Regions from separate parts of the Homo sapiens genome. Here region 1 is linked to region 2. Evidence: fine-mapped expression QTL. Tissue or cell type: whole blood. Region 2 holds a variant in brackets; the other region holds the start of a gene. All regions are shown on one strand. Distances are from middle to middle.

Region 1 (2,912 bases), 8.0 kb before region 2:
TAATAAATGAATAAATGAAAAGATCACATTGGTTATTCTATGGGGTATAAAGGCAGCAGGGAGTGCTAGGATGAAAGCAGGGATGCCCAGCACGGTGGCTCACACCTGTAATCCCAGCACTTTGGGAGGTCGAGACAGGCGGATCACGAGGTCAGGAGATCGAGACCATCCTGGCTAACACGGTGAAATCCCGTCTCTGTTAAAAATAAAAATAAAAAAAATTAGCCAGGCGTGGTGGTGGGCGCCTGTAGTCCCAGCTACTCGGGAGGCTGAGGCAGGAGAATGGTGTGAACCCAGGAGGCGGAGCTTGGAGCGAGCTGCCCTCCAGCCTGGGCAACAGAGCGAGACTCCGTCTAAAAAAAAAAAATTGGCCGGGCGCGGTGGCTCACGCCTGTAATCCAGCACTTTGGGAGGCCGAGGTGGGCGGATCACGAGGTCAGGAGATCGAGACCATCCTGGCTAACACGGTGAAACCCCGTCTCTACTAAAAATACAAAAAATTAGCCGGGCGAGGTGGCGGGCGCCTGTATTCCCAGCTACGCGGGAGGCTGAGGCAAGAGAATGTCGTGAACCCGGGAGGCGGAGCTTGCAGTGAGAGGAGATGGCGCCACGGCACTCCAGCCTGGGCGACAGCAAGACTCCGTCTCAAAAAAAAAAAAAAAAAAAAAGAAAGAAAGCAGGGAACGTCACTGAGAGGCTCTTACACAACTCCAGGCAAGAAACAGTGGTGCCTCGGACACAGGTAGTAACGGTGGAGACGGTGAGATTGCGGAAGCTTTGGAAGGTGGAGCTCATGCTATTCCTGATGGGTCAGTTTGGGGTGTAGAGATGGGACAGTTGAGTTTGTCAGCGGGAGGTCATCGATGACCTTGACAAGAGCAGTTTCAGTGGAGCGATGGGGGTGAAAGCCCCACAGAGAGAGCTGGAGAGAGAAAAGGAAGGAGGGATGAAGATGGTCAATTCAGAAAACACTGAGATGTTTTCCTGGAAGGGGGAGCAAAGAAATATGACGGTGTGGGTGTGGGGGTGTGTGTGCATGGGCTTGTGCATGTGTGTGTGTGTGTGTACAATTGGAAGAACTGCAGCCGATTGTGTGGTGATGTGAATGAGCCAGCAGAAGAGGGGGACCCCTGGAGCTGTGGGAGAGACGCAAGGAATTGCTCACTGTTGTCCTGGAGGAGGTGAGAGAGGATGAAGGGCAGTGTCCCAGTGGAGGGCGTAGAATTCAAGTTCCACAAGGCGTCCAGGTAACAGGCACGGATACAGGCGGGAGTGAAGGGAGAGGTGGAGTCTGAGGAAGTTTCCTTCTGATTGCTTCTGTTTCCCAGTGAAACAGAAAGCAAGGTCTCCAGCAGCTGACAGCTAGTACAGCAGGTTCTTTTTTTCTCAGGTGTTATAGATAGCTGCGCCTTCCGCTCACCACAGGTGAAATGGTTGGCTTGTATCTGGGGCCACACCACATAAAAACCATTTGAACAGCAGGATCACACTCAGCATGATGAGAGCCCACATGAGGCTGGAAGTGCAGGAACTTGGACCGGCGGGGGGAACCTGGCAGGTCACATTCCCTCTCAAGGGGTGAGTGCTCACCAAGTGGAATTGGAGTGTGACTCTGTAGCAGTGATTCATGCACAACGTGCTCTCTCTCTCTCTCCCCTCCCTTTACACGCGTGTTTAAATGTGTGTAAATTAGGCTGGGTGCAGTGGCTCACGCCCGTAATCCCAGCACTTTGGGAGGCCAAGGTGGGCAGATCACTTGAGGCCGGGAGTTCGAGACCAGCCTGGGCAACCTGGTGAAACACCGTCTCTGTGAAAAATACAAAAATTAGCCGGGCGTGGTGGTGCACATCTATAACCGCAGCTACTTGGGAGGCTGAGGCATGAGAATCACTTGAGCCCAGGAGGTGGAGGTTGCAGTGAGCCGAGATCACGCCATTGCACCCCAGCCTGGGTGACAGAGCAAGACCCTGTCTCAAAGAGAAAAAAAAAATGTGTGTAAGTTAAATGCACCATGATGAAGACTCCACTATAAATGGTGCCGCTGGAACCTCGGGCCTCCTGACTCCACATCAGTTTTGTCTCTACTATAATACTCCATCTCTCATCACACATCACTAGGGAGCACCAAAATTGCAGGGAAGAGGGTAACCCAGGCTGAAAGGAGGAAGAGAGCACTTAAACTAGAAAATTCTAGAACATCAGACCTCGATGGACCTTCACAGATCATTTGGTCCAACACCCTTATTTGACAGACATGGAAAATGTCATTCACTGACTCCCCCAATATCACACAACAGAATCCTCATCATCCCCATCATCATCCCCATCATCATCATCCCCATCATCATCATCACCATCACCATCATCCCCATCATCATCATCCCCATCACCATCATCCCCATCACCATCATCCCCACCATCATCATCCCCATCATCACCATCATCCCCATCATCATCATCCCCATCACCATCATCCCCATCACCATCATCCCCACCATCATCATCCCCATCATCATCATCACCATCATCATCATCCCCATCATCATCACCATCACCACCATCATCATCATCCCCAACATCACCATCATCATCATCCCCATCATCATCACCATCACCATCACCATCATCATCATCCCCATCACCATCATCACCATCACCATCAACATCACCATCATCACCATCACCATCATCCCCATCATCACCATCATCATCACCATCACCATCATCCCTATCATTATCATCCTCCTCCTGATCACCATAATTGTCATCTGCATGGAAGCTAGCCTATATTGATTACTCCCTGCTGCCAAGCTGTGTCCCATTTCATCATCAAAGCCTCTTGAGGTGGCCACTCTCATTATTTTCATTTTACAGGTGGTGAAACATCACAGAGCAGGTAAGGTATAAACTGG
Region 2 (2,912 bases):
AAGTTGAGGGAGGTGACAGCTTGGAGGAGAAAGGTGAGGTCCACTCCAGAGTCAGGTGTCACAGAAGGGCTGAGAAGAGGTCACTGGATCTAGCCATCAGGGTTGTCCATGCCCTGGGCAGGAACATTTTCCTGGTGTGAGGGGGACTGGACTCTGGAGAAGCTCAACGGTGAAAAGTCTTTCTCAGTGCACCCAGGGTGAATCATGGCCCCTTCCCAGCCGAGGTCCATTCTGCCTGCTTCTTCATCCTGCCCCTCACACTCCATGGATGGTACTCCGTGCCTAGTCCTGGTTGGTCTATACACTCCAGGAGCAATCGCTAGGAATCACGATAAGTGTATTCTCCATTTGAGCCTTGTTTCAGTCAGTCCTGAGAGGTCTGTATTATTTTCACCCCCATTTTACAAATAAGCAGACTGAGGCTCTGCCCCACGTGCCCAAGACTGGGGATAGGTTTCATCCCTAACTTGTGGGTCGCATTTGAGAACAGGAAACCCACATCATCTGAACCTACAACATCCAGACTCGGTGGTTCTCAAACTTCAGCCTGCCTACAAATCACCTGAGATTCCTATGAATTCTGCTCTTGGGCCCCAAACTGCAGGAATTGATCGAGCAGGTGTGAAGCCGTATTTGGAGATGTGTGTTGTTAACCAGCACCCCAGGTGGTTCCCATGCAGGTGACCGAAGTCCACCCTTGAGGAAGCATTAACCCAACCCTGTGCGGCACAGAGGGTATTTCAGGCACTGGATTGGTCTGGACCCCAAGCAACCGGTTTCTGGCGATCAGTTAGGGCTCTGGCTGCAGCTGGGAGCGGATTGGGGCGGAGGGAGGCAGAGGGCGGTAATAAAGAAACAACAGGAAGCTCTGCTTTTATTAGCCCTGGGTAGTAGCAGCTGCAGGTGAGTAATCTGATTTCTGCGGCGTCCTGTTTTCTCCGCTGCCTGGCGGTTCCTCGACACCCACTCACCTGCCGCCAGCCACGGGAGAGAGGGCAGGGGGGAGGGAGGATGGGCGTGGGGCCCCGCCCGCCCAGGTCCCTCGCCCACGCCCACGCGGGCGCACCCGCCGCGCCGACGCCGCCACCGGCTGCGCACCTGCCGCGCTTGCTGCGGGGAAGCCAGGCTCTGCTGTGGCGGCGGCGGCGGCGGCGGCGGCTGGCGGGGAGGAGACGCGGACTCCCACTCGCGGCCCTA[T/G]CGCTTGCTCCCCGCCTCCCCGCCAGAGCTGCGCCACCAGGCTCTGGGCGCGCTCCCATGATCGGAAGGCTGAGAGCCGTCTCCCAGCTCCACCCTTGACTTCTGAACCTCAGTTGCTGCTTCTGTCAAATGGGAGCACGTCCACCTACCAGTGCTAGACTGGAGAGATCAGGAAAGGGGTGCTAAAGTTACAAACTGTAAAGGGCTGTAGCGATCACCAAGGCATCGGAAGGAAACTGGCCAAGAAAGGCAAGTCTCTTAGCTTTGCTGGGCCTCGGTTTCCTTATCTGTAACATGGGAATGAGTAACCCTTCCTCATAAGCAGATGATGCTCGTGACGTGGATGGAACGCAGAGCAGGACAAGGGCAGTGGCTGCCGTGGGGTCATTATTACTGTTGCTGTTAGCCCAGGCCAGAATCTGCATTCCCTCTTCTTACTTGGATACCCCGGTTTTCCCTGGTTCTCAGCACACGTTTAGGAAATGGGGGGCTTGGATCACAAAAGGATTTTCAGGGTCAGGGGCTTGCCCAAGACTGGGGATTGGCTCCATCCCTAACTCTCTGAACCAAGCTTTCCATCTGTAAAATGGGGTTGACAACAACTTCCCTGAAACCCACAGACATATAAAGACCAATGAGAAACTCAGAAACACCTGGTAAACTGCGAAGTACTACCCACATGCAAAGACTGTAATTATTTCTTCCAGGTGCCTCTTTGCCCTAAAGAGTCAAGGATGAGTCAAGAACCAAATGAGATGAGCCAGGAGGATCCCTGTGAGAAGGGCCGGATGGCATTCCCCTTTACCCATGGAGCTCACTGCAGTGTGCAGCGATGGCCCAAGGGTGGAGAGGAAGGTCAGGCTGGGTCCTGCCCTTGGGGGCTCATGTCCCAGTTAGCCCACGACGCAAAGGCCCAGGTGTGATGGGAGCACAGAAGAGGGGGGAAGCCGACTCTCTGGGCAAGGGGGATCAGGCTGGTACAGGGGGTACTTCCCAGAGGAGTCAGCCTTGACGGGACTCTCTGAAAAATGGTTGTAGCTCAGGTGGGGAGAGGGGCAAGGCACGTGCTGGACAGAGACGGATTCCAGCAGAAAAGTCCAGAGACAAGAAAGGGGGTAGTGTGCTCAGGAAAAGGGCGTGAAACGTGACTGAAATGCAGGATGGGGAGAGGAAATGGATTCAAGATAAAGTCAAATTGGAGCCGGGCATGGTGGTGCACGCCTGTAATCCCAGCTACTTGGGAGGCTGAGGCAGAAGAATCACTTGAACCCCAGAGGCAGAATTTGCAGTGAGCCAAGATCACACCACTGCACTCCAGCCTGGGTGACAGAGTGAGACTCTGTCTCAAAAAAAAAATTTAAAAAAAAAAAAAGATGAAGTCGAATTGGGAATGGCCTCCAGTTACCACCCTAGGAAGCTCAGACTTTATCCTGAGGTTGACAGGGAGCCACGCAGGGTTTGCAGCAGGAGTGACATGGTCAGTTGTGGGTTCTAGAAAGATCTCTGTGGTAGGCTGGGCATGGTGGCTCACACTTGTAATCCCAGCACCTTGGGAGGCCAAGGCAGGTGGATCACTTGAGGTCAGGAATTCAAGACCAGCCTAGCCAACATAGTGAAACCCCGTCTCTACTAAAAATACAAAAATTAGCCAGGTGTGGGGGTACGTGTCTATAGTCCTAGCTACTTGGGAGGCTGAGGCAGGAGAATTGCTTGGA

What was found. PIP is the estimated chance that this variant, and not a neighbour inherited with it, causes the effect.
Region 1: MDS2 starts here. The variant in region 2 is fine-mapped to the expression of MDS2 in whole blood (TOPMed, PIP above 0.99).

Annotation. Positions count from the first base shown.
Region 1 is chr1:23,625,791-23,628,702 of GRCh38, reverse strand. It overlaps MDS2 (myelodysplastic syndrome 2 translocation associated), which reads right to left and starts at 1,369. Exons shown (of 6, transcript NR_167910.1): 1 at 1,166-1,369; 2 at 705-922; 3 at 106-196. RefSeq lists an enhancer at 2,796-2,912.
Region 2 is chr1:23,617,816-23,620,727 of GRCh38, reverse strand. No RefSeq gene overlaps it. Among named protein-coding and RNA genes, the nearest start is that of MDS2, 8.1 kb to the left of the region's middle. RefSeq lists a silencer at 940-1,209 and enhancers at 715-1,215, 1,216-1,716. The variant T/G (reference allele first, on the strand shown) is at 1,198.